Regions from separate parts of the Homo sapiens genome. Here regions 2, 3, 4, 5, 6 and 7 are each linked to region 1. The links come from fine-mapping of genetic effects on gene expression. A gene starts in region 1. Each other region holds a variant in brackets. All regions are shown on one strand. Distances are from middle to middle.

Region 1 (4,237 bases):
CTGCTGGGGAAACTGCGAGGAGAGACCCTTGGGTGCCGAGGGTCACGCAGCCCCCAGGCCCCAGCCCCCTTCTCCTACAGCCTGCTAGGCGGCATTGCTGCCCCAGGGTGATGCTTCTGCTCTCTCCTGTATTCGCGCTGGAGAAGTTTTCCCTGAAACCAGGTTCCATCCCCAGCCAATAACTCATTTCCTCAGAGATGGTGTCTGTATAAAACAAGCAAGATGGTCATTTGCAGAAACGCACAGCAAGGCAGCCCTAGACCGCTTCCCCTGCGGGTTCAAACCCCAACAGGCTCCAGAGGCTAAGAGGACGTGCCCGCTGGCTCAGCTCCCATGGCACGGGCTGGGTGCTCCGCTATTTCACTTCTCTCCCTCAGTTCCCCATCTGTGAAATGGGAATGCCCCTTCAGCTGCTCTGCCTCAGCCCCTATGGAAATGCCAGGAAGGGGAAAGGTCGGTCACCAAAACGCCAGGGACAGCATTATCTGAAAAGTGAAGCCAGAAAAGAGGGTGAGGGTGGGGTGGGGAGGGGGAGCCAGCGCCCACAAAGCACGAATTAAACACCCATGAAATCAAGCACGACGCCAAGAGGGCCGGCTGCCTTGAGAAAAGCCAGCGTGCGGCCACCTTTTCCCCGGCCTGGGAACTTTCCCCAGGAACAGGGCCCTCGGCCCGGAGTCCCGCGCCTCGCCCAGGGCCCCACTGCCCAGCGCCTGGCCCTGCCCTGTCGCCCCCGCCGCCCCTCGGGCCCCTGCAGGCCGGGTCGGAGGTCTGTCGGCAAAGGCTCAGCCAGGCCGCCCGGCTCTGCGTCCCCAGACCTCCGCAAACACGCCCCCTCCGGCCGCCTCCGGCTAGGAAGCCGGGCCCGTGCCCGCCAGATGTGCCCAGCGCCGGGAAGAGCCGGGCCAGGGACGGCCTGGAGCCCGCGCGGAGGCTTTCCCCGGGAGGCTCGGGCACCGCGGCACCCGGATCCCGCCTCTCTCCCCCGATCCTGGGCAGCCGGAAAAGGGATCGATCGCCGGCGTGCGAGGCCGGCCGGGGTCCCCGCAAGTCGCCTTCCGGGGATCCGGGGATCCGGACCCCCGCCCCCTTCCCCGGAACCCCCCGGGGGGGTACGCTCGGGCAGGTGCAGTCAATGCCAGTCCCGCCCCAGCCTCCTGCCCCCCGCCCGAGCCCACCCGGCGCTTACCTGGCCCAGGCGCAGCAGCAGCAGCAGCAGCGGCAGCGCCCAGCGCAGCCCGGGCGAGCGCGGAGGCAGCCGCGCCTCCCGCGCCGCCGGCTTCATGCCCCGCGCGCCCTGGAACGTGCCCCGGACGCGCGAATCGGGCCCCGCCGTGCGCCCGAGCCCGGGCACCGTCGTCGCCGCCTCCTGCCGTCTCCTTCGCCTCCTCCTCCGCCAGCCGGTCCGCCTCGTCCCCGCTCCGCCCGCCCCGGGCTTCCCCGGAGACATGGCAGCGGCGGCGGCGGCCGCGGCCACACGCCGGAGCCTAGCGCGGCTGCCGCGGGGGGGCCGCGTCCCTGAGCGCGCAGGGGCTTCGCGGGGCGGAGCGAGCGGCGCCCACCCCCAGCGCGCGGCTACCCGGTCCCGGCTCCCGCGGCTGCTCCCGCTGCCTCCTCCGCGCGTCATGCGGCTGGGGCTGCTGCAGGGAGCCGCGGCGAGCGCTCGGCCCCCTCCCTTCCCCTCCCCCTCTGAATATTCATCGCTTCCTCCCGCCCCGGCCGGCCCGGCGGCTGCGGAGCTCCGCAGCCCCTCGCCGCCGCCCGCCGCTGCCCCCGCCCCCTCCGAGCCGGCCGCGGATCCCCTCCCGCGGGCAGAGGAAGCGCTCCCGCCTCGCCCGCCCCTCCGCCCAGCCCTCCCACATTCCTGGGACTTGGAGCCCGGGACCAGGCTCCGTGGCTCTAGCGCCTCGAGCCGGCACCCCTCAGGACGGGCTCCCCAGCCTCACACCAGGTCCACGGCGCCGGGTTCGGGTGGGCAGAGGTTGACCGAGACCCCTACTGAGAGCGCAGCCAAGCCTGATTGTAGACAGCAACCCGGCGAAGGCGCGTTTGACCTGGCCCTGGGTGGGCTTGGGGGTGCGTGAACCCCGAAATTGTAGAAGGCACGCTGTACATTGTGTTCTGTCCCCCAGCCCCCGAGCGCCGGCCAGGGAGGCAGAGAGCCCAGTACAAGCCAGTCCAGGGATTAGAACCCCAGCTGTGGCATATGGTGGACGGGGCTCTGCTGGTAGTACCAGCCCTGTGAACTCTGGAGACGCATTTCTCCTCTCTGGCCGACCCCACCCACCCTCCTCTCCTCCCGTGTGAAATAAAGATCGTACTAGGACGTGTGGAGAGAGAGGTCCACTGCATTCGCGATTAAACGAGACAGTAGTTAGTAAAGTCCTAAACACCTAGCCTGACACATCGTGGGACTCCACATACATTAGCTCTTCTGGAAGCTTTCATCACGTTGTTAAAGAGGTCAATGAACTGACAGGAGTTAAAGATCACAGCAGATATTACTCCTGTGCCCATGCACAGAGGAAGACACTAGGATCAGGGAGGCTATGCCACTTGCCCAGGAGAAGCCGCAAGAGAAAGGGCCAAACCAGAGAGTGCTAAGGAGGAAGAGGTTAATTCCAACCAGGAGAGAGGTGACACCTGAGCTGGGCTTTGAAGGATGTGTTGAGTTTCACCAGGCCAGTAGAGGGGAGAAGTGTCTCAGGAGGTGGGGCCAACTTGGCAGAAACGAGGCAGCAGATGCTTCGAGCTTGGCCTTCGGAGAAACAGGAATGGGAGGCTGGGGGATTCATACTGGGGGAGACTTCAAAGGCCAGGATAATGAGTCTAGGCTGGATTCTGTGTGCAGCAAGATGCAGACCACGAGGTGTCCAACACTACCTCCAGACACCCGTTGGGCCTCAGGTTACCATCTACAAGATGGGAATACACATTCACTTACAGGGTCTAAGTGGTTCCCACCAGACAACACACCCAGACAAGCACTGAGGATAAAGAAACTTTGCCAGGCCGCACGATGGCTCACGCCTGTAATCCCAGCACTTCCGGAGGCCAAGGTGACTAGATCACTTAAGCTCAAGAGTTCGAAACCAGCCTGGGCAACGGGGTGAAACCCAGTTTCTACAAAAATTAGCCGGGTGTGGTGGCACACAGCTGTAGACTAAGCTACCTGGGAGGCCGATACAAGGATGGCTTGAACCTAGGCTGCAGTAAACCAAGATGGCAACACTGCACTCCAACCTGGGGAATAACGTGAAAACCTGTCTCAAAAAAAAAAAAAAAAAAAAGAAGAGGCTGGGCGTGGTGGCTCACACCACACCTGTAACCCCAGCACTTCAGGAGGCCGGGGCAGGCAGATCACTTGAGGTCAGGAGTGCGAGACCAGCTTGGCCAACATGGTGAAAACCCATCTCTACTAAAAATACAAAAGTTAGCTGGGCGTGATGGCGTGCCTGTAATCTCAGCTACTCCAGAGGCTGAGGGCAGGAGAATCGCTTGAACCCGGGAGACGGAGGTTGCAGTGAGCCAAGATTGCACCACTGCACTCCAGCCTGGGTGACAGAGTGAGACTCCATCTCAAAAAAAAGAAAAGAAAAAGAAAAAAGAAACCTTACCTATGGACTTACACACCTTGCCACCCTTCATTTAAACACTATGTAATTATCATAATTCACAAGGATTTTTGTTCCTCTGTGCCTCCTCCCCTCTTGAGGCAGAGACATAAAAGGTGTTCATGTCCATGATACCCAGAGGGAAGGAAAGCTTGATTTAAGATGCTACCAGGGGGCTGGGCACAGTGGCTCACGCCTATAATCCCAGCACTTTGGGAGGCTAAGGTGGGCGGATCACCTGAGGTCGGGAGTTCAAGACCACCTGACCAACATGGAAAAACCCTGTCTCTACTAAAAATACAAAATGAGCTGGGTGTAGTGGCGCATGCCTGTAATCCCAGCTACTCGGGAGGCTGAGGCAGGGGAATCGTTTGAACCCAGGAGGCAGAGGTTGCAGTGAGCAGAGATCGCGCCATGGCACTCCAGCCTGGGCAACAAGAGTGAAACTCTATCTCAAAAAAAAAAAAAAAAGATGCTACTGGGTAGCCAAGGATGATTGCCAATTATAAAAAAGAAAAAGAAGATGATAGTAGGTCTGCAGGCTGCCTCGGATCCTCACAGACCCTACAGACCCTACTAACCCTGAAGACCGACCCAGGTCTCCACAGATTCATGGCTTGGGT
Region 2 (4,237 bases), 260 kb after region 1:
ACATTAGATCCCAGGGTCCCTGTTGGTAGACTGAGGATTAGATATATCTGCCCTGAAGAATCATAACTCCTGTGGGCTAAGAAAAACTCTAATAGAACGTGTTTCATTTCTTCAGTGTGCCTTTAATGGTTATTGGAGGTATATTTATATAAAATAAATAAGGCCGGGCACGGTGGCTCACACCTGTAATCCCAGCACTTTGGGAGGCCAAGGCAGTCAGATCACCTGAGGTTGGGAGTTCGAGACCAGCCTGACCAACATGGAGAAACCCTGTCGCTACTTAAAAAAAAAAAAAATTAGCCAGGCATGGTTGCACATGCCTGTAATCCCAGCTACTCTGAGGGGAGGCTGAGGCAGGAGAATCGCTTGAACCTGGGAGGCGGAGGTTGCGGTGAGCCGAGATCGCACCATTGCACTCCAGACTGGGCAACAAGAGCAAAATTCCGTCTCAATCAGTCAATAATAAATAAATAAATATGCACTTAGACATATACGTAAAACTGGGGTAGTGTTTGGTTGACCTATCAGAATGAAGAAGTTTGATGAAGAATATACTGATGTTTGGCTGAGAAACAAAAGATTTTCATAAACATAGACGTGATAGATCAGGTTTTTAATTTCAGTTAGATTTTTATTTGCTGGGAAATGAATACTTTTGTTAATTTTTCTTTCCACTAAAATAATCTGTATGTTGTTTTCACAGTGGCATGGCAGAGAGAAATGCTAATTTTGAAGCCCTTCCTGAGGATTGGAGAGCAAGGCTGAAGAGAAGGAAAATGGCTCCAAACACATAGTTTTTAAGTTTTTAAAACTTTTTTGTATTATTGTTTGTTTTGTGTTCAGTTCAAAGTCTTAACCAGTTTTATTGTCAAATAAACTATAAATGTTATGGGGGAGATCTTATAAATTTCCTGGGCAAGAGTGTATGCATACAAAGTTTTCACTTTTGTGAAATGTAATTTTTCTGTTTTTGCAAAGGGATGAGGTGATTGGAATTGCTTTGACCATGCTGCCTTTATTCTCAAACTGGCAAACTTAGCATGTTAGGTGTATTAACCTCATCAGTCTTGAAGAACATGTGGCTCATGAGTATAACACTTCTGTAGAGGACTCCCTGACAAAAGTGAAGAATTAACTTCTCCTCCAGAACAAGTGCAATTCAGAAGGCAGCTCTGCATTCTACCTTGCTTGACTGGAATTGTCTGAAGCTTTTTCTGGCCTCTTTTCTCTAGTCGGCCACCCCTGAAGTGCTGAGGTCTAAGTGGTTTACCTCGTGCTGATAGATGGCCACACTCTTTAGAGTAGTTCTCATAAGTTCTAGAACTGGTAGCTCGGTCGTTTCGCACACTAGGTGGCATACAGGCAGCAGCAGGTGTTCATATCCTTGATTTTGAGAATTTCCCCTCAAGTATGTGGCAGTAAATACAACAAGACACTCTATGTATTAATGTCTCCATTGTCTTAACCCTGTTCCAAAACAAAATTCACCTCCTTTCTTTATGTGAATGTATTCTCCATAAAATTCCAGTATTTAAAAAGCAGTTTACTGTTCTGTACTTTCTGTTGTATCACAATCAGGTAAAAGTCACTTTAAACTGAGGAAACGGCAAATTGTGTTTTAAAGCTCTTTGTATTTCTCCAGTTTCTGACCTTGTAAATTTGTATATATGCACTAATAAAGCTTTTTTTATAATCCTGATGGGTTATCCTTTTGCTCGTCAACTCCTGTTATTCTGATTATGTAACCAGGACTTGTTTTTTTTTCTAAGCATATACAATGCAAGGTGCAAACATTTAACAACAGCTTTCAAGAAAATGAGCAGGAGATCTTTAATGGGGAGTGGTGGGGCCAGTTTAGACAAACAGGCTTCTAGTCCCAGATGGTGCTGTGTGATCAAAGTTTTGGGGTCTAATATTATCTATAATATCTAGATTGGTTAATAGCCATATTAGATAATATTTTACCTACTTAATTCCTGGCAATGATGTAATATGGTTAACATTTCAGAAAAAAAGGTGCTTTATAGCTTTTTTCCCCCCACTGATAAAAGTAACAGATACGGTTATATTCATATATAGTTAACCAAAGACACGTGTTTGAATTTTATTGTAGTATATTTATTTTTTTGTTGTTGGTTTTTTGTTTTTTTTTTTTCTGGAGACAGAATTTCGCTCTTGTTGCTCAGGCTGGAGTGCAATGGCACGATCTCGGCTCACCGCAACCTCCGCCTCCCAGGTTCAAGTGATTCTCCTGCCTCAGCCTCCCGAGTAGCTGGGATTACAGGCATGCGCCACCACACCCAGCTAATTTTGTATTTTTAGTAGAGATGGGGTTTTTCCATGTTGGTCAGGCTAGTCTCCAACTCTCGACCTCCCAAAGTTCTGGGATTACAGGCGAGAGCCACCGCGCCTGGCCTGGAGTAAATTTCTATGCATATAATTGATTTTTTTAAACCTAATCAAAATGTGTGATTTGAATTTGTTAGCTCTGTTTCTTAAGATTTGCAGTGTAGAAGGTAATTTTTCCTTTCTAGCTGTGCAGTGGAGAGAATGTTAAGGTGAAAGGAGAGAAGCAGCAGCTCTC[T/CT]TAGAGCAAATTATGCATAACAGTTATCTAAAGCCAACAGCAAACCAGCTTGGAAGTATGTTGAAGGCTACTGGCATCGTACTCATCAATGCGGTTTCGATTCCGAGGCTGGGGCTGTGATGTATGAGGGGAAGAAAGCCGCTGCCCGCCATACATGTTGCAGACCTTCCCGGGGTCCCCGCTCCCTCCTTGGGGGCGAGGCCTAGCTCCCCGGAAGCGCCCGACCGCCCCGCCCTTTCTCCGCTTCCTGCTTTCGGTTGCTAGACTACCCGGGCCCTCACAGAAGGCGGTGGCGGGCGGGTGCAGCGAGTTTGTCCCCTTGCCCGCACACTGCTTGGCCTCTGTACTTAAGTGCGGTGGCCGCCTGCCTCGCTGGAGCTTCTCTGCCGCAGCCATCCGTGCTGCTTGGGACGGGCCGGGGCGCGAAGGCGGTCGCATCCATCGCTCTGCCCTCCTGGGAAGTTTCTGCTCTCCTTCCCCGCTCCTACCCTTAGGAAACCCCCTCACCACCTGCCCCAGACCAGGTTCCTCTGAACCCTAAATTCAATCTTTAGGGCCCACTTTCCCAACCCCCTGACCTTTTTCCATCGGCACCTACCGAGACGACTTCGTCGCGTGCTCCCATACCCATTTCTTTCACTTTCCTGTGGCGAGCATCTCCTTTCTCAGGGAAAGGGAAGCATGGGGCCAGCACCTTGGGAAGAAGAAGCGGGAAGATACGCTGCCCTCCCTGTCTCAGATGCACCTCTGGCCTCGGCGTGACCACCTTGTTTAGCTGAGGAGAAGCTGGGTTGGCAGGGTTTTCTGAAGTCAAGAGGGAGCTGGGGGGCGCCCGGGGAGGTATTGGCAGTTTTTTCACTTGTCCTCTTGTGGCTTTGTAGCTTCTCTTGTGTAATCAGCTGCCTATTTGGAAATTGGGCAGGGTTTGCGACTGGATGCTAATGTCACTGACTAGTTTTCAGCCTACCATCCAGAAGTAACATGTTCCCAGCTTTGGAAACGCACCTAAAGCAGGTCGGTACACAACACGGAAAGCCACAGAAATTTCTTCGGGGAACTCCATTTCTTCGGGAACTCCACAGAAATCTGCTACTAGATGAGAAGGGATGTTCTGGTGGCATCTTTTCTCAGCTGGAGATCTTGATCCCCACGATAGAATAATTCGCATGGAATGCAGCTCGCTTGGTTTAGTCTAGTCCTATGCAACAACGCTCATGTACTTTTTGTTGAGTCTATTATGGTTTGAAAACATTATCTTGATTGAAGTGGCCTTTCCTTTCACAGACTATTCCTGATCCTTATGAAGACTTTATGTACCGTCACCTCCAATATTATGGCTACTTTAAAGGTAATACCATGTTCTTATCTAGTATCACCTTTCCTGGACTCAAGAGGAAAATTGCTTCGTTAGCTGGGAGGGTTGCACTTGGGTAGACTAATAAATAATTTGCATTGACAAATAAATACTTTTTCCTCTACCATTAGTGAAAAGTACTTCCTTTCCCCATTGATCTGCGGGTCACCTCTGTCAAGTAGACAGCATCACTTAATACAAAGGTCTGTTTCTGGGCTCTCTATTCCATTGGTCTGTTTGGCTATCCTTTACCAGTATCACTGTCTCTTAATTACTATATGGCATTAAAATAGTCTTTA
Region 3 (4,237 bases), 240 kb before region 1:
AGAAGAGCTGGCTAGTGAAAGCCTGAAATTAAAGCCACAGAGCCTTCACTGTGCCAGGGACGAGGGCAGTCTTGCTGCTGACCCTGATTAAGAGGTACAAGTTTGAAGCAGAAGTAAACACTGAAGGCTCTAGACTTTTGCTGCCCAGTTTGGTAGCCACTGGTCATGTGTGACTATTTAAATCTACATTTTAGTTAATTAAAATTAAATTAACTAAAATTTAAAATTTCATTTTTTAGTCGTATTAGAAATATTTCAAGGGCTCAGTAGCCACATGGCTAGGGACTAGCGTGTATTCACACGATAAGAACACTTCCATTATCATGGAAAGTTCTATTGGCAATGCTGATCCAGACCACAGCAGCTTCAGAAAACAGAATGTCTATCTAGAATGCAATCTCCATGAAGGCAGGAAAGGTCTCTGGCCTACGTACCACCACATCTCTAGAACAACACCTGGCATGTAATATATGCTCAGTGAGTCTTGTTGAGTAAATTATTAAATGACCTTAAAAGCCCTGAAATGAGTGAATAATTAAGTGAATTAGGCAACAATGAGACTCTGTGATATTGCAAACCACATTTATGAAAAAATTTTAATTACACGGAAATTGTGTAAAGTGCCTGAGACTATACGCCAATCCTTACACCTATTCTCTTCCTCTTTAGGAACAGAACAGAACCCTGAGTTTTCACTGCACACAACTCCACACACTATAAGAGATTATAGTTGGCAGGGTGTGGTGGCTCAAGCCTGTAATTCTAACATTTTGGGAGGCTGACAGGGATGGATCACCTGAGGCCAGGAGTTCGAGACCAGCCTGGCCAACATAGTGAAACCCTGTCTCTACTAAAAATACAAAAATTAGCCAGACGTGGTGGCACACATTTGTCGTCCCATCTACTCAGGAGGCTAAGGCACGAGAATCGCTTGAACCCAGGAGGGAGAGTTTGCAGTGAGCCAAGATGGCACCACTGTACTCCACCTGGGTGACAGAGTGAAACTTTGTCTCAAAAAAAAACAAACAAAACAAAAATTATAGTTCCCTGCCCCCTTTGAAATTAGGTTTCACCATGCTACTAATCGTTATCAAGATGAAAGCAAAAGTGCTATATGGCACTTTTGGAAAATCTAAAGGGAAAGTGATCAGTTTTTCCGCCTCCTTTCTCTGCTTCTGTCCCCTGGAATAGAAATGCAAAGCTAGAGTTGTGTTGTCCAATATGTCATCCACATGTGGCTATTGAGGCTTAACTTATTTAAAGTAAATACATTTAAAATTCACTTCCTGGGTCTCACTAGCCATATTTCAAGTGCTCAACAGACACTACGATATTTTTTCCCTATACCATAATGCTCAGAAGCATTGCCATATTGAACTGCACAGATATAGAATATCTCCATCAGAGCTGGACTTTCAACCTCTGAACTTTTTTAACTCTATCTCATTAAAAGTTGCTTTTTTCCCTGTTATATGCAGTCAAACCTATACCTAAATGAATACAAATAATTAATGGACAAAGGATACAAAATTATGTATCTGAGTAGTTTACAGCACTCTACTAGTTTTTCTTTAAAGAAAGCATGTTATATTGATTCTCTTAAAAATACATTTTTAATGTTGTGATAAAATCAACAACCAAGAGCTAACTACATGCTCTCTAGTGCTAAGTGGTATAATTAGATTATTACTACTTCTGTTCATTGAGAAGACATTTTTAAAATTTTATGACATTCTCTGTCTCTTAAAACAATGAAAAAATGTTTTCCTTTAACTTATGTGCTTCTTGCAGCAAGGCCAGAACAAAGTGAGTAATCAGCTCTCAACAGACCTAAGTCTCAACTCTCTTGAGGGTTGAGAGTAGGTGACATGATCCTTAAGAATTTTGACCATTCAATTAGAATAGATATTATCTGCCTGTGCAGTATCCAACCACTCAGAGTTCACTGATGGTGTTCTATCCATAGTTCTCAGAGAGGAAACCAAACCTGCCCATGAGTAAGGGACTCCTACCACAACCTGCAACCTAAAGTCCTAGCCTGCTTTAATACAAGCAAGATATCAAGAGAAAGGAAGGGTGCCTTCACTGTGTTTCATTCTGGAGCAAATGCTTTAAAATATACATTAACAAGATATAAAAGCATTAGCATAAAAGATTATAGGGAAGCTATTTTACAGTCAACATCTATTTAACAAATACTAAGTGAGTACCTATGATGCACCAGGTAGATGGCCTAACAGAGAATGTTTACGTTCAGAGAAGCAACGTGGCATGCGACAGAGAAGGTCTATTGAACTGCCTTAGAATGCTTGAACACTTTTGGGGTGGAATCAAGGCCTATTCTGAGTAGCTCTACAGGACAGAATGATCATTGTGAGATGCAGTCATCACACAAAATAAAATTAATAATCAGTTCTAATGATGAAGATGATGATGGCTAATATTTATTGATGACCATGTTCTGTTCTAAAAGCTTTGCAGGTATATTATCTGATTTAATATTCAGAATAATCCCTTTTTTTTCTTTCTTTCTTTTTTTTTTTTTTTTT[TG/G]AGGCTAAGTCTCACTCTGTTACCCAAGCTGGAGTGCAGTGGTGCTATGTTGGCTCACTGCAACCTCCGCTTCCCAGGTTCAAGTGATTCTCTTGCCGTAGCCTCCCGAGTAGCTGGGATTACACGTACGTGCCACCATACCTGGCTAATTTTTAGTACAGACAGCGTTTCTCCATGTTGTCCAGGCTGGTCTCAAACTCCTGACCTCAAGTGATCCACCTGCCTCAGCCTCCCAAAGCACTGTGATTACAGGCGTGAGCCACCACACCCAGCCAGAATAATCTTATAAACTTCATAGTATTGTTAGTCATTATACTCATGCATAAACAGTTGTTCAGGGAAGTTAAGTACTTTGGATCCTGGGTTGTGGCTCACAGGCAATTGGAACAGCCTAACAAATGTCAGAGCCTGAGCTCTTAAAATTTCAACAGGAAGATGTGCTCCTCACCATGAAAGTGTTCAAAAGGAACCTATAAGAATTAATATAGCAAGGATTGTGCATGAGCCTAAAGGGTTGGTTATTCCACATGCACTTAAGAAGTATCAACTATGTGCATGATATTTAGAGCTGCAAAGAAGAAGGGACAGTGGACAGTCCTGCCCTTGAGAGCTTACAGTCTATTGAGAGACAAACACATCAAATAATCAGAATTGAAGTGATAGGGCAATAATATGTAAAAATGACTGCAGAAAGGAGACATAAATTCAACCCAAAGAGGAGGGAAGTCAGAGAAGGTCTTATAAGGAAGATGACTTGAACCTAGGTCTTGAAGAATGTATAGGATTTTGCCATACAGAAAAGGGAAGTAAAGTCATTCCAAGCAGAAGCAGCAACATTTTCTCAGGGATTAATGATGGTCGTCTATGGACAGGGTTAATGGGAACACTAAGGGAAGTGAGAAGTTTGCTGGTGCCTTTAAAACCACTATTTACCTACGTGTTCAACCAGCACCTATAATAGAAAGGAAAAAGCCCTAAGATATATAGCACACCCATGATACTCCATCCCTCTGCTAGGGAAGCTGCATGAATTATTTCACCTGATTCTCAAGAAAAAGCAGAGGATGTTGTGCAAATTCAATGCCAATATGTGCAATTTTAAAGCCAACAGGGAACAACTTTATGATATTCTATAAATTATGTACAATTATATGAAACAATGGGGTAAGGCAGAGATGCTGAGAAGTTAACCAAAAGTGCAGACACAGACGATCTCATCTCCCTTCACCAAGAAATACTAATAGGCATTAAAAGAAATGGCCTTGCATGGTCACTTAGAACAAGGGACAGGGTCTGGAGTAGAAGTATGCTTGGACAGTATCACTCTCCCCTTCATTCTTTAAGTTAGGCCTAATAAGCATTTTCTAACATTTTGTATTTTTCACATCTGGATAAGACTAACAATGTTTTTGTGAAACACTGTATTTGTGAAAATATTTGACTTGATCTTTCCATAGTGATAAGTAGAATCTATGTCATTTTGATATTATTTTTTTACAAATGTTGGACATTGTGAGAAAGACCAGACAGATTTAAGGACCATCTCTTGTGAAAACATATCACAAGAACTAAAAATGCTCCAGGGACTTTTCTGGGGCTTATGGTCAGATGGTCCATGGTACAAGATACCAGGAGCCAACCAGAAGAAAAGAAAAGTCCCTGGATGTAATTTTCAAAGACATACTTG
Region 4 (4,237 bases), 27 kb before region 1:
ACAAAAATTAGCCGGGCGTGGTGGCGCATGCCTGTAATCTCAGCTACTTGGGAGACTGAGGCAGGAGAATCGCTTGAACCTGGGAGGCGGAGGTTGCAGTGAGCCAAGACCACACCATTGCACTCCAGCCTGGGCAACAAGAGCAAAACTTCAACTCAAAAAAATAAAAAATAAATAAATAGGCCAGGCATGGTGGCTCACGCCTGTAATCCCAGCACTTTGGGAGGCCGAGGCAGTTGGATCACGAGGTCAGAAGTTCAAGACCAGCCTGGCCAAGATGGTGAAACCCCGTCTCTACTAAAAATACAAAAATTAGCTGGGCGTGGTGGCACATGCCTGTAATCCCTGCTACTCGGGAGGATGAGGCAGAGAATTGCTTAAACCCAGGAGGCGGAGGTTGCAGTGAGCCAAGATCACGCCACTGCACTCCAGCCTGGGCCACAGAGCGAGACTCCGTCTCAAAAAATAAATAAATAAATAAATTGTGGTGAAAGGTGTGGAACATCTGAAGCAGGCATGGGCTCAGCCTAAGGGTCCACGCATGGGCTCAGCCTCCCCTCAAAACAGATTCCAGAGTTCAGAAGACACCTTCAACTCTTCCCCAGAAGTAACAGATTTCCCTCCAGCAGATCACCTGGCACGTGTCAGAACTCAACCCTAAAAGCCCAATTCAGCCTCCATTAAAAACAGGTCAAAAATAGATACGTTACTGAATACCCTGTGTGCTCACCACTGTATCTTTAGTGTCGGGAAGAAGGGGGCAGAAAGAACCAGGAACTGGAGCCAGGAACCTGGGCTCACAGTGATATTAGCTGTGTGGTCTTGGGCAAGTCACTTCCCCTCTCTGCGCCTTGGTTTCAACATCTCTAAAGTAAACGGTTTGCATTAGATGACCCTCAATGACCCTTCCTGCTCTGGGCCTGCCCAGTTTTATAAGTGACCAGTGACTGTACATCATGATGTCAACTCACAAGTACAGCTCCTACCAGCTTGCTGCTGCCTGGAGGGAAGACAGCAGGAACGCACAGAAGAAAAAGGCCTCAGCCGGGTGCAGTGGCTCACACCTGTAATCCCAGCATTCTGGGAGGCGGGCAGATCACTTGAGGTCTGGAGTTCAAGATCACCCTGGCCAGCATGGCAAAACCCCATCTCTGCTAAAAATAGAAAAATTAGCCAGGTGTGGTGGCACATGCTTGTAATCCCAGCTACTCAGGAGGCTGAGGCACAAGAATCGCTTGAACCTGGGAGACGGAGGTTGCACCAAGATTGTGCCACTGCACTACAGTCTGGGTGACACAGTGAGGAAAAAAAAAAGAAAAGAAAAAGGCCTGGCCCCGTGTGGTGGCTCATGCCTGTAATCCCAGCACTTTGGGAGGCCGAGGTGGGCGGATCACGACGTCAGGAGATCGAGACCAACCTGGCTAACATGGTGAAAACCCATCTCTACTAAAAAAAAAAAAAATACAAAAAATTAGCCGGGCGTGGTGGCAGGCACCTGTAGTCCCAGCTACTCGGGAGGCTGAGGCAGGAGAATGGCGTGAACCCGGGAGGCGGAGCTTGCAGTGAGCAGAGATTGCGCCACTGCACTCCAGCCTGGGAGACAAAGCGAGACTCAGTCTCAAAATAAAAAAAGAAAAAAAAAAGAAACAGGACTCATAACTAGGTCCCCTATGAAGCCACTGGTCACAGTAAAGGGGAACACATCAGACTGCTCTCTAATTTGGGAGTATGGGTAGAATTCTGATTTCATATTTGAAAAATCATCTAACCTTTATCATATATGCCTAGCTTCATATTAAGACAAAGGTATTCATTTCATTAAAAAAAAATGACTGACTCATAACAAGCCAGCAAAATAGAGTCAGAACAAGAGCAAGTCATCACGATACCAATGCCAAAGGGGAGGTTTCTGTCTTTATTTTCTAACTGGCAATGACAAGCTTTTTACAAAACCCAGGCAAGCTGCAAGTCAGTGATAAAGGGGATGGTCCGCCTTGCCACTTGAACAGAGACAGGCCCAGATAGGCAAGGACACTGGGTGACCTTTAAGACCCAGAAAGACCTCACTGGTTTTAAGGTAATGCTCAGTAGGAATGAGGGAGGGGTGTGCCAGGGGATGGAAGGGGGCTGCTGACACTGTGTGAGTCAGTACCAGACTCTTTGCAGAAACAAAGGCTCAGGTCCAAATATGTACTAGGAAAAACTGACAGTCTCTGGATTATAACCAGCTCACTGGCCTCCACGTGGGAGCTTTTGCAGGGTTCAGAGCTTCTCTGAATGGGCAGGGATGTCCATCCAGATGACCAGGCTACTTCCTCCCACACCTGCCTGCACCTGCTGCATGTCCCTCCCCGCCCCTAGATTATGAGCTCTGCAGGTTCTAGCAGATTCTGCCCTCCTTTCCCACTCCACCTCTCTCGCCTCCATCCTCTCCCTCTCTCTCTCTCTCTCCCA[C/T]TCTTCCTCCCGAATCACCCTTGAGAGAGGCAGGAAGCCACAAGAGCCCCAGGTTCCAGATGAGGAAAGTGATGCTCAAAAGAGACAAGATCAGCCCAAGGTCACATAGGCTGCACCAAGAGTCCAACCCACTCTCCTAACTCGAAGTCTTGTTTCTCCCATCACAGCGGTTCTGTGGGTGCTGCTCTGAAACATCTCCTCTTATCCCACAACCACTCAGCCTTGCCCAACCAGGTCCAGCCTGCTGCCTCTCTCCAGCACCACACAGCCTCTGGGCCCCTCCCAGCCAAGACCACTGCAATCGCCTGGCCCAGCAGGGGCAGGTGGCTGCAAGCTGGCTAAGAGCCGGACAGGGCTGCTATCTGCCATTGTCTAGCCATGCAGCTTATTTAACCTCACTGAGCCTGAGTGCCCTCATCTGCAAAAAGGGGATAATAACCCTGTCTCAGAGAGTCCCTTAAAAGAAAGGAAGCACATGAAGCTTGCCCTAAACCCAGCCCAGTAAGGGCAGACACACACACAGGCTCCTCACAGCCCACCCCACCCAAAGGCTCCAAACACCACTCCCCAGTTCAAAATCCTCCCACATTGAAAACCCGTGGCCACACAAACACTGGTAGACAAACGTTCATAGCAGTGTCACTCACAATAGCCAAAAAGTAGAAATGACCCAAACGACCATCAGCTCATAAAAGGATAAACAAAACATGGTATCTCTCTGTGATGAAATATCATTCAGCCATAAAAAAAGAACAAAGCAGTGATACCTGCTCCAACATGGATGGACCTTGAAAACACTATGCTAGGCGAAATAGCCAGAATCAAAAGGACACACAGTGTATGATTCTACTCACATGAAATACATAGAACAGGTAAATTCACAGAAACAGAAAGCAAATTGGTGGTTGCCAGGAGGTGGGGGAGGGAGAAATCAGGAGTGAGCACTCGTGGGCATGGGGTTTCTTTTGTGAGTAACGAAAATATTCTGGAACTAGACAGCAGTGATGGTTGCACAATTCTGAATATACTAAAAACAACTGAACTGTATGCTTTTTTTTTTTTTAAGATAGAGTCTCACTCTGTCGTCCAGGCTGGAGTGCAGTGGCATGATCTCTGCTCACTGCAACCTCCACCTCCCAGGTTCAAGTGATTCTCCAGCCTCAGCCTCGCAAGCAGGTGGGATTAGAGGCACCCACCACCATGCCTGGCTAATTTTTGTATTTTTAGTAGAGACGGGGTTTCATCATGTTGGCCATGCTGATCTTGAACTCCTGACCTCAAGTGATCCACCCACCTCAGCCTCCCAAAGTGCTGAGATTACAGGCATGAGCCACTGCGCCCAGCTTTGAACTGTATACTTTCTAAATGGATGAATTTTACTGTATGTAAATTATATCTCAACAAAGCTGGTATTTTTATATTGCCATCAAAAATACAAAACAATAAAATGATTAATATTTACAACATGAAAAGAAAATCCTTCCATGATACCTCATTCTCTACAAGATAGAATCTAAATCACGCAGGCATCCTCCAAGTCCAGCCCCAGCCTACCTTGCCGCAAACACCCTGCATTTGCCCAGCAAGACCTCTCACTGTACCCCAAATGAGTCTTCCCCCCTGCAGGCCTGGGCTGCTAACATTCACTGCCACAGCAGCAACAGTTACTCACTTGGCCTGATTCTTGTCTCAAGTCCTGGCTGTTCCTTTGAGGCCTGCACTGCCTATGACTTGAAACTCTGACCAGCCCATCTATCTCCCCAACTAAGCTGGAGCCTCCTTT
Region 5 (4,237 bases), 96 kb before region 1:
TAAATTTTGCACATAAACTGAATCCATCAGGCCGGGCACGGTGGCTCATGCCTGTAATCTCAGCCCTTTGGGAGGCCATGGTGGGTGGATCACCTGAGGTCAGGAGTTCAAGACCAGCCTGGCCAACATGGTGAAAACCTGTCTCTACTAAAAACACAAAATTAGCCAAGCGTGGTGGTGGGCTCCTGTCATCCCAGCTACCTGGGAGGCTGAGGCAGGAAAATTGCTTGAATCTGGGCGGCAGAGGTTGCAGTGAGCCAAGATCGCACCATTGCACTCCAGCCTGGGAAACAGAGCAAGACTCCGCCTCAAAAAAAAAAAAAGAAAAAGAAAAAAAAAACACTGAATCCATCTTTAGCTATTTGTCCCAGATCTCTTCCTTAAAACCTTCCCTGATCACCCAGCTCCAACTTAGTCTCAATTCCTATAGCATCTGTTTATGCCATTCACTTAGCCATTGAAGGGCAGGATACAATTTGCAGGGAGATAAGTGTAAATAGATCATTCCAGTAGAATAAAATGAGTAGAATATTTGTTCACAAGGTTACAAATCGCTGGAGAACAAAGCAACCAGCTGGGGAAAAATCAGGAGAAGTCTCCTTAAAGGATTTAACCCTTGAACCAGGTCTTGAAGGTTGAATAGGGATTCATGAGCCATTATGAGGTCAGGATTTCGGAGCAGGGAAAAAGACCCATCTCAGGCTGCTCAGGCTGGAAAGATTCGTGCAAAGGCATGGGGTAGGGCCGAGGGTGAATGAGTGGGCAGGTGGCAGGATATTGGATCAGGAAGACTGTAGCACGCTCCGTAAGGCTGTCGGGGGGAGTCCTGGAATGGTGCTGAGACACAGAGTAGGCCTTCAGGAAATATGTCCTGGGACGACCATCAAAACTGGGAGGGATTCCATTTCTCATTCCTGGAAGAGTCGGTCACTCCAAGCCTCAAAAAGTCAACAAACAAGAGCATCAAAGGGTCCATGGAGGGAAATCACTGGTCTTTAATCTCCCTGTCTTCTCTTTCAGCCCACACCCACAGCTCCAAGAAGAACTGGGTGTGAGGTCTCAACAGGCCCAAGCCTCTGTTTTCTGCTATGTAACCTGCAACTCCACTTAGCCATCTTGGAAAATGTTACATACAAGTTAAGGCTTTATTTCTGTCCTAAGATCTTGTAACTAGGACAAAACAGTAAAAGTAACCTTTTTTTTTTTAAAGAAAAAAGACTTGGCCAGGCACAGTGGTTCATGCCTATAATCCTACCACTTTGGGAGGCCAAGCCAGGTGGATCACCTGAGGTCGGGAGTTCAAGACCAGCCTGACCAACATGGAGAAACCCCGTCTCTACTAAAATACAAAATTAGCCGGGCATAGTGGCCCGTGCCTGTAATCCCAGCTACTCGGGAGGCTGAGGCAGGAGAATCACTTGAACTGGGGAGGTGGAGGTTGCAGTGAGCTGAGATGGCGCCATTGCACTCCAGCCTGTACAACAAGAGCGAAACTCCATCTCAAAAACAAAAAAAGAAAAAGAAAAAGAAAAAAGAGTTGTTCTTTTCTACCAATTGTAAAATCCTTTTCATTTCTCTAAGACATCTTTTTTTTTTTTTTTGGAACTTCACTGGCTTATGTTTGATATCTTAAAGGCGCAGATATTTTGTAACCCTCCCCCTTTACCATTTAAAAGAATTATAAAAATAGAAGTCCCAAAAAAAATCTTAAATGCAACCGCCACAGGGTCTTCCATTGATGCCAATTCCTACAGGCTTCAGT[G/C]GCAAGTATGTCTGAGCTGGTGGGAGCTTTGAAGTCAACTCTTTGAAGTGAGCCTGGTACTTTCTCAATACTAAAGGAAGTAAAAATGGAAGCTAAAAAATGAGGAGAAAGAACCAAAAAAGGGAAGAAGGCCCCTTTGAACACAAGAGCTCCCTGATTTCATCCCTTATCCAGAGTAACTCCAGACCAACTTGATTCTACGTATATCAGCAAAACACTTTTTATATATGAAACAAAGAAAAGACAGTGTCATCTCCCATAAGATTATAATTTATTAAAACAAGGTAAGACAAAAAAACAAACTCTAATACAACAATGAATGTGCAAAACACCATTAGAGAAACAGAAGAGGTAAGACACCAATGCTTGGAGAGAAGCTACTACAGTCAGGCCCTGTGTAAGGTACCCCAGCCACACCAGCTCCTGGGGGTTAGGTATCCTCTGCCCCATTTTGTAAGGCACTGAGAACATAAATTGACCCACTCAAGATCACTCCCCAGGTAAACAGATGGGTGAGACTGGAACCCAGGTCAAGCCACCATGTTCTTCCTATAGGGTAATTCCAAGAGGAGAGAAAGTATACCTGGCTGGGGTAGGGGGAAGGACCATGAGAGGCTTCATGAACAAGGGGGCCTTTCAGATGGAAATGGGATGACCAGGACTTTAGCTGGGAAGGAAGAACACTCCATGCAGGAGGCTCAAACACCCAGTTCCAGGAGAGAAAACAACGGGCAGGTTGGCTGAACTGGAACTCCGGCTACATCTCAGGGAATGAGGCTGGAAAAGGAGACATGGTAGAAGGTGCGGAAAGGCAAGGTAAAATGTGGCAGAAAGCAGCAGCCACCAAGGGAAGGGACATAACATCTGGGAAGGACGTTAAGAGCCTAGCACAGGACAGGTGTGGTGGCCCACGCCTGTAATCGCAGCACTCTGGGAGGCCAAGATGGGAAGATCGCTTAAGCCCAAGAGTTCAAGACCAGCCTGAGCAACACAGTGAGAACCCATCTCCACCACACACACACACACAAAAAAAATTTAAATTAGCCAGGCATGGTGGCACTATAGTCCTAGCTACTGGGGAGGCTAAGGAAGAAGAATCACTTCAGCCCAAGAGTTCCAAGCTGCAGTGAGCTATGACTGCACCACTGCACTCCAGCCTGGGTGATAGAGTGAGACCCTGTCTCAAAAATAAATAAATAAGGCCAGGCACAGTGGCTCACACCTGTAATCCCAGCACTTTGGGAGGCCGAGGCAGGGGGATCACAAGGTCAGGAGTTCAAGACCAGCCTGGCCAACATGCTCAAAATACAAAAATTAGCTGGGCGTGGTAGCGGGCCCCTGTAATCCCAGCTACTCAGGAGGCTGAAGCAGGAAAATCACCTGAACCCAGGAGGCAGAGGTTGTAGTGAGCTGAGATCATGCCACTGCACTCCAGCGTGGGTGACAGAGTGAGACTCCATCTCAAGAACTAACTAACTAACTAACTAAATAAATAAATAATGCTAGCATGTAACTGCTAGTTGTTAACAAAGACAGAAAAATCTTGGAGGTTCAATAGTTTCCAACTATTCTTCATGTTCTCCTCCTTCAGCTGTCTCAGCTGGTATACACCCACTAGCTCCCCTGTATGCAAAGGAACCTGGCCAAACGACTGACAGCCATCACTTCCCCTTCACTGCACCTCACCTATGCTTGCTTAATGTGTAAAACCCACATAAAATTTTTGGAGGTGAGATTCTTCCATGCTGAGAGCACTGACTCCTGGCCCTAATTTGCTGAAATCTCATATTCTCATTAATTATTCCAGCAAGGGCCTTAGAATTCTCAGAATTACCTAAAAACTAGGGCACACTGCACTTTAGACAACGTTCAACATGAGAGTCAAAAAAAACTTTGAATCCCTGGCCTAAGGATTAAGGTTCAGTGTCTCCACAACCATCATGTGAACACTGAACTTCACAGTTTCACCCAAATTGCATCAGTACAATAATTGACTTTTTTCACACCAACTTTACTAACACCCCCTCTGGGTTACAGGAGAAAGGGTCTAATTAGATTAAGGCTCAGAAAGATTACACACCTTGCCCAAGTTCACAGAACTGGTGGGGAGAGAGTCTTTGCCACTCCCTAAATGATGCTGGTTTATATAATGCATCGTTGCCTAGAATCTAAATACTGTCTATTAATTTGGGTCTCATGCTGGGAAATTACAAATTCAGTCATGATATACATGATTCTTGTCAAGTAAAAGGCTCTAAATATATCCATGCACAAATTAATCCGAGGTTCCAACATGTCAATACTAAAGACAGCTGAAATAATTACTGCTGCAAAAATAAATTAGGAACACAGAATATGTAAAGATATTTAAGTTTCTCAATTTAAAGTCCTGTAAACACTTTTTTTTCTTTTTTTAGTTTTTAAAAATTACAGCCTGAGCAACGTGGTGAAACCCCATCTCTACAAAAAATATAA
Region 6 (4,237 bases), 41 kb before region 1:
CTCACCTACTTCCTCCTGCATCTTCCCAGAAAGAGTCCTTGGGTCATCTCATTCAGCCACTTCCACACTTCTTTGTTTATCAGAAACACACACACCGGCAAGAGAACCCTTTCTTCCCACAAACCAAAATCCAAAAATGAAATGAACCCACGCTGCTCTGGCTGAAGCAAGGATGGAGGTCCAGAAGCCTCTTTCACTTGGTCTTGGCACTACCCCCACATCCACCCCTTACCACAGTCTAAGAAAAGCACTGTGCAAGTCAAACTTCTTCATTTTACAGGTGTGAAATCAGCACCCCAGGGGAAAGGGTCTGGCCCAAGGACATACAGTGTTAGAAACAGGCCAGAAGCCAGGTTTCCAAACTCACCAGACCAGGACTCTTCTCATGGCCCCACGCTGCATCTTCATCATCTTAATTTTTTTTTTTTTTCTTGAGATGGAGTTTTGCTCGTGTTACTCAGGCTGGAATGCAATGGCACGATCTCGGCTCGCTGCAACCTCTGCCTCCCAGGTTCAAGCGATTCTCCTGCCTCAGCCTCCTGAGTAACTGGGATTACAGGCATGCACCACCAGGCCTGGCTAATTTTGTATTTTTAGTAGAGACGGGGTTTCTCCATGTTGGCCAGGCTGGTCTCGAACTCCTGACCTCAGGTGATCTGCCTGCCTCGGCCTCCCAAAGTGCTAGGATTTACAGGCATGAGCCACCGCGCCCGGACTTCATCATCTTATATACAACCAACACTTACATAAAATTTACCATGGGCCTGAGGCACCCCTCTTCGTAGACTAACACATTTAATTCCCACAATAATGTAATGACACAGGTTCTATTATTATCTCCATTTTACAGAGTAGGAAATTGAGGCACGGAGATTAAGTAACTTGACCAAGGTCACCCAACTGGTAAGCAGCAGAGCAGGGGTTTGAACTCAGGCAGCCAGGCTCCATGCCCATGTTTCTTAAAGAGTTTGCCAGAAGGAATCACTTGCTGCCTTAGGTCAGGAATGGCAATACCATATTACTAACCATCTGACAAGTGAAATAATGAAGTATATCATCCAGAGTTTCCCTTAAAAGGCAAAGCAAAGTCCAATAAAAATGAAAAAACAAAACAAAACAAAACAAAACCCACAGACAATTGCACTGGAGATGACAATGAAAGGCTCAAAGCGCTAGACTCATATTAAAGCATCTTTGTCAGATTTCTTTCTCAGGTGCTGCATGCTTGGGGGAGGAGGGGCAGGGTGCAGTGCTCCTTAATCTACACAATGGCTGAGGGGCAGGGTGCCGTGCTGGTTAATCTACACAATGGCTGAAATTTTACAACCCATTCTCAATGCATCTGTCCTTTGGACACACCCATTTTTGGCTTCCTTTCCAACCCTGATGCCCCAAAACCTGGGGCTTCCATAACATCTATTAGAAATGGCCTGCGTATAAACCTTAACCTCTTTTTTTATTTATTTTATTTTATTTTATTTATTTATTTATTTATTTATTTATTTATTTATTTATTTATTTTAGGGACGGAGTCTTGCTCTTGCCGCCCAGGCTGGAGTGCAATGGCGTGATCTTGGCTCACTGCAACCTCCGCCTCCTGGGTTCAAGCGATTCTCCTGCCTCAGCCTCCCCAGTAGCTGGGATTACAGGCACATGCCAACACGCCCGGCTAATTTTTGTATTTTTAGTAGAGACAGGGTTTCACCATGTTGGACAGGCTGGTCTCAAACTCCTGACCTCAGGTGATCCACCCATCTCTGCCTCCCAAAGTGCTGAGATTACAGGCGTGAGCCACCATGCCCAGCAGCTTAACCTTTTGTTAAGGGTTCTGGGCTGGGCTGTGGCCAGTCTACTCTCCTACCACAGAAGAGTAAAATGCCCTGCATTCTCTTAAAAAAGTAAGAAAAATAAAAATAAATCACTGGTAGCCAGCCTGCCCTTTTGGGGATCTTTCTCTATCTCCATCTGAGAATCTCTTTCTTCACCCAACTCTGACACATGCCCCTCAAAATAAAGTCAGATACTCTGAGGTGGACTGTCCAAATCCCTTGCTGCTTTTTGGTTTCATTCACTTGCCCACGGGCTGTTCTTAGTGCATTTGCCCATCCAAACGTGGGAGGGGCAGGAGGAAGAGTAGGGACATCCAGCATTGGGACCCAACTCAGTCCGTGATACTTCCAGAAGCTCCATGCTGGAAGCTGGCAACTGTGGAATCGACAGGCAGCTTCGCTTCAGAGGGTTTTGAGACCAGTACCTGCTCAGCTGCTAACCCACCTAGGGTAACTGAGCCATGTCCGGCTGCAGTCTGAGCCTTCACTCTGCCCCCGGACTGCACTGCGTTCATTTACGAGATCTCCAAATGTGAGTTTAATGGAGGCAGATGTACAAGGGTTCTCACAAGCCCAGGGAACTCAACTTCTAGAAGGAAACGGGGCCACACCAAACAAGATGATGGGGCAATCAAGAGATACTCCCATAACAGCAAGAAACAAAGAGCATTCACGCCTCCTATGCCAACGCCCTCCACCACCAACGCCAAAAATTTC[C/T]GTATTTCATAACACCAGCTGAGATAACTGACTCAAATCTGTCCACTTCCACATTTGCATACTGGGTTCTGACATTTGCCTACCACTGAACAGTCACCAAGTAAGACGCAAGGTGGAGACGTACCCACAAAGCAATATTTAATGTCTTTGGATCGCCACTAGCTAAAACCTCCTGAAGTTTCACCAAACTCAGCTCTGTAAAACAAAAGAAAAAGAACAACACTATAAATTACAGCCTCGCCAGGATCTCGGGACATGCCTATACTTTGTATTTTATAAGTTCCGTATAAATACTGGAACAGCATAGAAACAGGGATCTCAGAAATAACGCCATTTTGAAGGCCACAGGACGAAACCCAACTATTCATTTCATTTTATTCTACTTCTTATCTCAAATACACAGTTCCTTTTCCTTTAACGAAAATATCGCTCTTTTTAAACAATATGTGATGCAAAGCAAATATAACAGGGTACCAACACAAATCTTTCCTGCCAAATTTATGGTTCCTCGCCTGTCCCCAGTTGCACCCAGAACCACTACCCCAGCCTATCGCTGTGTACACAACACGGACTAGGAATTCTAAAGAACTGCCTTAATCTCTCAGCTGTGTGCAGTGCGATAGGGTACGCTTGGATGCCAGTTTTTAAAAAGCAAATCAACTTTCCTCAAATTATTAAGATAAATAATTAGAAGGGGAAAGCTGCCGGCATTCAGTACAATAGGGGGGAAACCAAAACACTGAATGTTCCTGAGTCTCACACAGGGTGATACCTTGGAACAGTTAACACAGTACCCTGGCAAAATGTCCACCACATTTTTTCACCCCTTAACCTGAGTCATTATATTGTACTTTCTAGACGTGAGCAAATGTGATTGCTGAACAGGCAACACAGGGACTAGGGCCCCTTCCTGGAGGTTTCTCAGTGCACTCTAACACAATTAACTCCTCTCAGGCTCAGAGAAAGGAGGTGGGGTTCGGGGGAAGGTGGGGTGGAGGGGCAGATTCTAGTGAAGTCAGAGGCCTGGAGAGGCTGTCGCAGTGGGGCCAGGTGGAAGACAGGGAACCAGAAGGGCGGGATGCTTCCTCGTCACTGAAAATCCTCTTCTGTTGTTATAAAGGCCAAGTGCCCGCCCAGCCCCTGCCACATCCACGTTCCTAAACAGAGAGAGGGCCTTCCACAGGCAGGAAAAGGGCACAGAGACCGGGAGGCAGCAACTTAAACTCTTGGCAGCCTGGAAGGGCAGGACCCACGGGCTCACTCCACTTACCCCAGCCTTTCCACAGGCCCTCCTGAGAGGGGTTCTCCATCCCCCAAGACACACACACACAACACACACACGCACGTACACGCACACATACACAAGAAGAAAGCGTGGAGAGAGGGTAACTCGACTCCCCTGCCCCCCTCCCCACCAGCCTGCAGAGGCGAGGGGTCGGGGAGAAGGAGGGCCTCTGCTCTATCCTCCCAGGTATCTAACCCTCCCTGGGCAGCTGTCAGCTTCCATTTGCATGAATGAAAACTGTGGTCAACTGGTACCTGGGAGAGAACAAAGCAGGAAATAAAAGGGGCTGTCACTTACTCAAATCCAAAGCTCATCAAGTCTAACTAAAGGGAGTGCCACATTCCGCACCCCCAGTTCGGAGGGAAGGATTTGCTGGCTGGGCCCCGACGCCCCTCCCCCTCGCTGA
Region 7 (4,237 bases), 260 kb before region 1:
TCAAGACTGGCCCGGCCAACATGGTGAAACCCCGTCTCTACTAAAAATACAAAAATTAGCCAGGCATGGTGGCACACACCTGGAATCCCAGCTACTTGGGAGGCTGAGGCAGGAGAATTGCTTGAGCCTGGCAGGGTGAAGGTTGCAGTGAGCCAAGATCATGCCACTGCACTCCAGCCTGGCTGACAGAGCAAGACTCTGTCTCAAAAAAAAAAAAAAAATACACAGATCCTTCTTTTAAAATTATATCTATACGCATTCCTCCACGTGAAAATTTATTTTGCAGTGAAAAATGAAATATCAGTATGTGCTTTTTTAAAAAAGTGGAAATGTGTTTAAAAACAGGCAAAGGACATGAACAGACACTTCTTGAAAGAAGACATAGATGTCTCCAACAAATACATGAAAAAATGCTCACCATCACTAATCATTACAGAAATGCAAATCAAAACCACAATGAGATACTATCTCATACTAGTCAAATGGCTATTACTAAAAAGTCAAATAAAAAGATGCTGGCAAGGTTACAGAAAAAAAGAGAACAATTATATACTGTTGGTGGGGATGTAAATTAGTTCAGCCACTGTGGAAAGCAGTTTGGAGATTTCTCAAAGAACTTAAAACTATCAGTCAACCCAGCAATCCCACTATTGGGTATATACCCAAAGGAAAATAAAGCTTTTTACCAAAAAGACACATGTACTTGTATGTTCATCACAGAGCTATTCACAATAGCAAAGACATGGAATCAATCAAAATGCCAATCAGTGGTAGACTGGATAAAGAAACTGTGGCACATATACACCATGGAATACTATACAGCCATAAAAAAGTAGTGAAACCCTGTCCTTTGCAGCCACATGGATGCAGCTGGAGGCTGTTATCAGAAGTGAAATAACACAGGAACAGAAAACCAAATACCACATGTTCTCAATTGTAAGTGGGAGCTAAACATTGAAAACGGTTGGACACAAAGATGAGCACAATAGATACTAGGGACTACTTGAGGGGGGAGGGTGGGTGGGGGTGTTGGTTGGAAGGCTACCTATTGGGCACTGTGCTCACCACCTTGGTGATGGGATCATTCGTATACCAAGCCTCAGTGACACGCAATTTACCTATGTAACAAGCCCCAACACGTACCCCCAGAACCTAAAATAAAAGTAGAAAAAAATGGGAATGTAAAAGTTTCTAGCAGCTTCTATTCATAACAGCAAAAAAAAGAAAAAAGAAATCAACCCAATATCCACCACCACAAGAAAAAAAAATGTGTATACACACACACACACACACACGTATATGTATATTTACATATACACATGATTTTGGAATGCTACTCACTAAATAAAAATAATCATAACCCACAATATGGATGAATCCCAAAAATATTATGTTAAGTGAAAGAAGCCAGATACAAAAAGAGTACATGCTTTCATTTAAACAAGCTTAGGACAGGTTAAACTAATTCATGATGATAGAAATTAGATCAGTAGCTGCCTGAGGAGGGGAGGAGATTGCCTGGAAGAAGTCACAAGAGAAGTTTCCAGAGTGATAGAAATATTCTGCATCTTGTTGGGAAGTTGGTTCACAGAAGTATAAATTTGTCAAAACTCATTAGATTGTACACTTAAGGTCTGTACATTTTGCTGAATGTAAATTTTACTTCAATTACTGAGAATATATTTTAAATGTTATCACGACAAAAACAATAACTTTGTGAAGTAATGCAAGTGAATTGGCTAGATTTTGTTATTCCACAATGAGTGTGTGTGTGTGTGTGTGTGTGTGTGTATCAAAATGTGTCATACATGATAAATACAATTTTATCTGTCGACTTTTTTTAAAGTAAAAACTAAACAAAATTATTTTCATAAAGTAAAACCTAACTGAGATGGGAAACCACAATGAAGGAAACTTCTGGTCTGGGAATCAGAATATCTGAGTTTGTGCCCACGCTTTGTGCTTGATTTACCCTGGAGCAGAAATCACTAGTGTTCCTAATTATTATTTTCTCCTTCTTCCTTCTATAGTATTAGAATCCCTGAATTTTTATGAGGGCACATGCCTACCTGGAATGAAAATTACATTAC[C/A]CAGCCTCCCTTGAAACTTCAAGGAAGGGGACATGTCTTATTTCATCTCTTCCTGCTTTTGGATAACAGGATGCTGCCATTATGACTGGAGCTCCATCAGCCATTTGGGGCCATGCAGTGACCTTGGGAATTAATACTATAAAGGATGGAGAAACAAGATAGAGAACATTTCTATCCCAGACTGTGAACTTCTTGACTTCTATCTTGGTTTAGATTCTGATCCTTGCAGCTAAAACCTAATCTAAATGATGTTTCATCTAAAACTGTACATTGAGAATGATTAATTCATATTTCATTGACATCACAGGATTACAATGAGACGCCAATGAAGTAATGAATGTGAAAGGGCTTTGAAATATGCATAGGGTATTATGCAAATATAGGGTATATCAATTAATAAGTTCAAATATGGATTTCATGTATTAGTTTGGACAGTTGGTATTTTTTGTTGCAAGACAATATATGAACACTATTTCGAGCTCTCAAATAAGTTCTTTTCTGGCTGCTTCAAGCAATCTCACTTCTGGCTCAAGCCCTTCCCAAATGATAAAAACTAATAATGCCGACATCATTTTGATATATTTTATTCCTTCCACAGCTCTTGAGCATCCACCACCTGTCACTCATCACACGAAGTGCAAAAGCAGCAATTCACCTAAAATCAATTCACCAACTATAGTTTGCCAGATGGTCAAATTACCAACAGTCAATTCACAAGATTAACCAATTCAGCAATTTTGCTATCAGGCAAATGGCCAGTCCACTGAATTATCAATTCACGAAAGATGTGCTTCTACTTCCAATCTCAGCTAATCCTTTTCCTCTTAATTAAGAAGCTCTAAGGAATCTGGATTGTAAAACATTCACAAAGTCAGCATTCAACACGTCTGGATCAACAAATCCATTGAACTTAAAGAAAAGCAATTGAGTTATGCCAACTTGGCAGAAATTTGCAAACACAATTTCCAGACAGTTAAATCAAGGGCAAAGCCCTCAAGGTAGCAGAAAGGACATGTTCAATGCCCATGCTCAGCAAAATCATTGTAAAGAACTATGAGGTAAGTGTACCAGGTCTAATAAATATTAACCACTTTTAGTCCAGTACGTTGACTTTTCTATTCTCCTTTGATATGCATATTTGTCAGGTCAAGTCTAAAGAGTTTGTGTAACATTAACAACCACAGAACCTCAGCAGCATGCAACTGGAAGCATTTATTCTCATGTTCATGGGTCTGCAGGTGAGCTGGGGAAGCTCTTCCTCAGGCTGCAGTTTGGTGGGTCGGCTAGAGAAGTTCTGTTCCGTATGTGTTCATTTGGCAGTTCAGGCTGTAGTGCAGCTGCTGCCTATCATCTCATGATCGTGGCAGAGACACAGGGGGGCAAACAAAAATACACAAGGCCTAGTAAGGCCTAGGCTCTCACTGAGGCATTGTCATTTCCACCCACCCATGCCATTAGCCAAAGCTAGTCACATGGCTAAGCCTAAAGTCAGGGGATGGAAACATACACTCCTTCTGATGGGAAGAACTGCAAAATTACAAGGAGCAGGGCACAGGCAAAAGAAGAAGTAAAGAACTGGGGCGGATCATTCAATCTGATTCAGGTAAGTTTGGTTAGCACACGTGAAAACATATCCAGGTAAAATTCCTCATCTGTTACGTATACATGGGTCCCTTTCTTGAGAAAAGTCAATTCAAGAATGAAGAAAAATAAGAAAGACAGTTGACTAGATTGAAAATTCACTGGAAGAGTGAAACAAACTTATATAAAATCCTTGATATTCATTAATTACCAGAAAACTGAAATTGAGAATACACAAAAATCCTCCTCCCCCAAATACATCGCTTATTGCAGGCATCTGCAAAACATAAGTGCTATAGATTTTACAAAGGATTAACAGAAATAGGTTTTGAGGAATCAAAAGTTCAGTAAATTAGTTATGTGGTAATTCAGTTAAATTAACAAATTGTTATTTGGCAAATTTATCTGTAATGAATTGGCCAGAACCAGAACCCAAGGATACATATGCAAACAAGACCCAAGCTCTGGGAGCAAAGATGGCCGAATAGGAACAGCTCCAGGCTGCAGTTCCCAGCATGAGCGATGCAGAAGATGGGAGATTTCTGCATTTCCAACTGAGATACTGG

Alleles and levels. Alleles are on the strand shown, and positions count from the first base shown. SD is a standard deviation of normalised expression in the study named. Not every link is listed here.
As copies of C replace G in region 5, the expression in tibial nerve of the gene that starts at base 1,639 in region 1 goes down (small effect, 0.24 SD a copy in GTEx).

What was found. PIP is the estimated chance that this variant, and not a neighbour inherited with it, causes the effect. A credible set is the group of variants that fine-mapping cannot tell apart.
Region 2: its variant is the best candidate, but not a certain one, in a credible set for the expression of PTPRJ in whole blood (INTERVAL, PIP 0.74).
Region 3: its variant is the best candidate, but not a certain one, in a credible set for the expression of PTPRJ in whole blood (INTERVAL, PIP 0.64).
Region 4: its variant is the best candidate, but not a certain one, in a credible set for the expression of PTPRJ in whole blood (TOPMed, PIP 0.83).
Region 5: its variant is the best candidate, but not a certain one, in a credible set for the expression of PTPRJ in tibial nerve (GTEx, PIP 0.82).
Region 6: its variant is the best candidate, but not a certain one, in a credible set for the expression of PTPRJ in whole blood (TOPMed, PIP 0.62).
Region 7: its variant is the best candidate, but not a certain one, in a credible set for the expression of PTPRJ in whole blood (TOPMed, PIP 0.62).

Annotation. Positions count from the first base shown.
Region 1 is chr11:47,977,961-47,982,197 of GRCh38, reverse strand. It overlaps PTPRJ (protein tyrosine phosphatase receptor type J), which reads right to left and starts at 1,639. Exons shown (of 25, transcript NM_002843.4): 1 at 1,190-1,639. The coding sequence starts at 1,285. RefSeq lists silencers at 609-1,038, 1,139-1,728.
Region 2 is chr11:47,713,979-47,718,215 of GRCh38, reverse strand. It overlaps AGBL2 (AGBL carboxypeptidase 2), which reads left to right and starts at 2,847. Exons shown (of 19, transcript NM_024783.4): 1 at 2,847-3,041; 2 at 3,466-3,598; 3 at 3,869-3,932. The coding sequence starts at 3,566. FNBP4 (formin binding protein 4) reads left to right here. Exons shown (of 17, transcript NM_015308.5): 17 at 704-1,722. The coding sequence ends at 794. RefSeq lists an enhancer at 3,110-3,169. The variant T/CT (reference allele first, on the strand shown) is at 2,585.
Region 3 is chr11:48,218,298-48,222,534 of GRCh38, reverse strand. No RefSeq gene overlaps it. Among named protein-coding and RNA genes, the nearest start is that of OR4B1, 3.6 kb to the right of the region's middle. The variant TG/G (reference allele first, on the strand shown) is at 2,550.
Region 4 is chr11:48,004,502-48,008,738 of GRCh38, reverse strand. All of the region lies in intron 1 of PTPRJ (protein tyrosine phosphatase receptor type J), which reads right to left. Among named protein-coding and RNA genes, the nearest start is that of PTPRJ, 26 kb to the right of the region's middle. RefSeq lists a cis regulatory region at 1,963-1,980 and an enhancer at 1,899-2,043. The variant C/T (reference allele first, on the strand shown) is at 2,455.
Region 5 is chr11:48,074,150-48,078,386 of GRCh38, reverse strand. All of the region lies in intron 1 of PTPRJ (protein tyrosine phosphatase receptor type J), which reads right to left. Among named protein-coding and RNA genes, the nearest start is that of MIR3161, 21 kb to the left of the region's middle. The variant G/C (reference allele first, on the strand shown) is at 1,763.
Region 6 is chr11:48,018,661-48,022,897 of GRCh38, reverse strand. The region is part of intron 1 of PTPRJ (protein tyrosine phosphatase receptor type J); the gene reads right to left. Among named protein-coding and RNA genes, the nearest start is that of PTPRJ, 40 kb to the right of the region's middle. RefSeq lists an enhancer at 2,333-2,392 and a silencer at 3,473-3,522. The variant C/T (reference allele first, on the strand shown) is at 2,547.
Region 7 is chr11:48,236,703-48,240,939 of GRCh38, reverse strand. No RefSeq gene overlaps it. Among named protein-coding and RNA genes, the nearest start is that of OR4X2, 6.3 kb to the left of the region's middle. The variant C/A (reference allele first, on the strand shown) is at 2,091.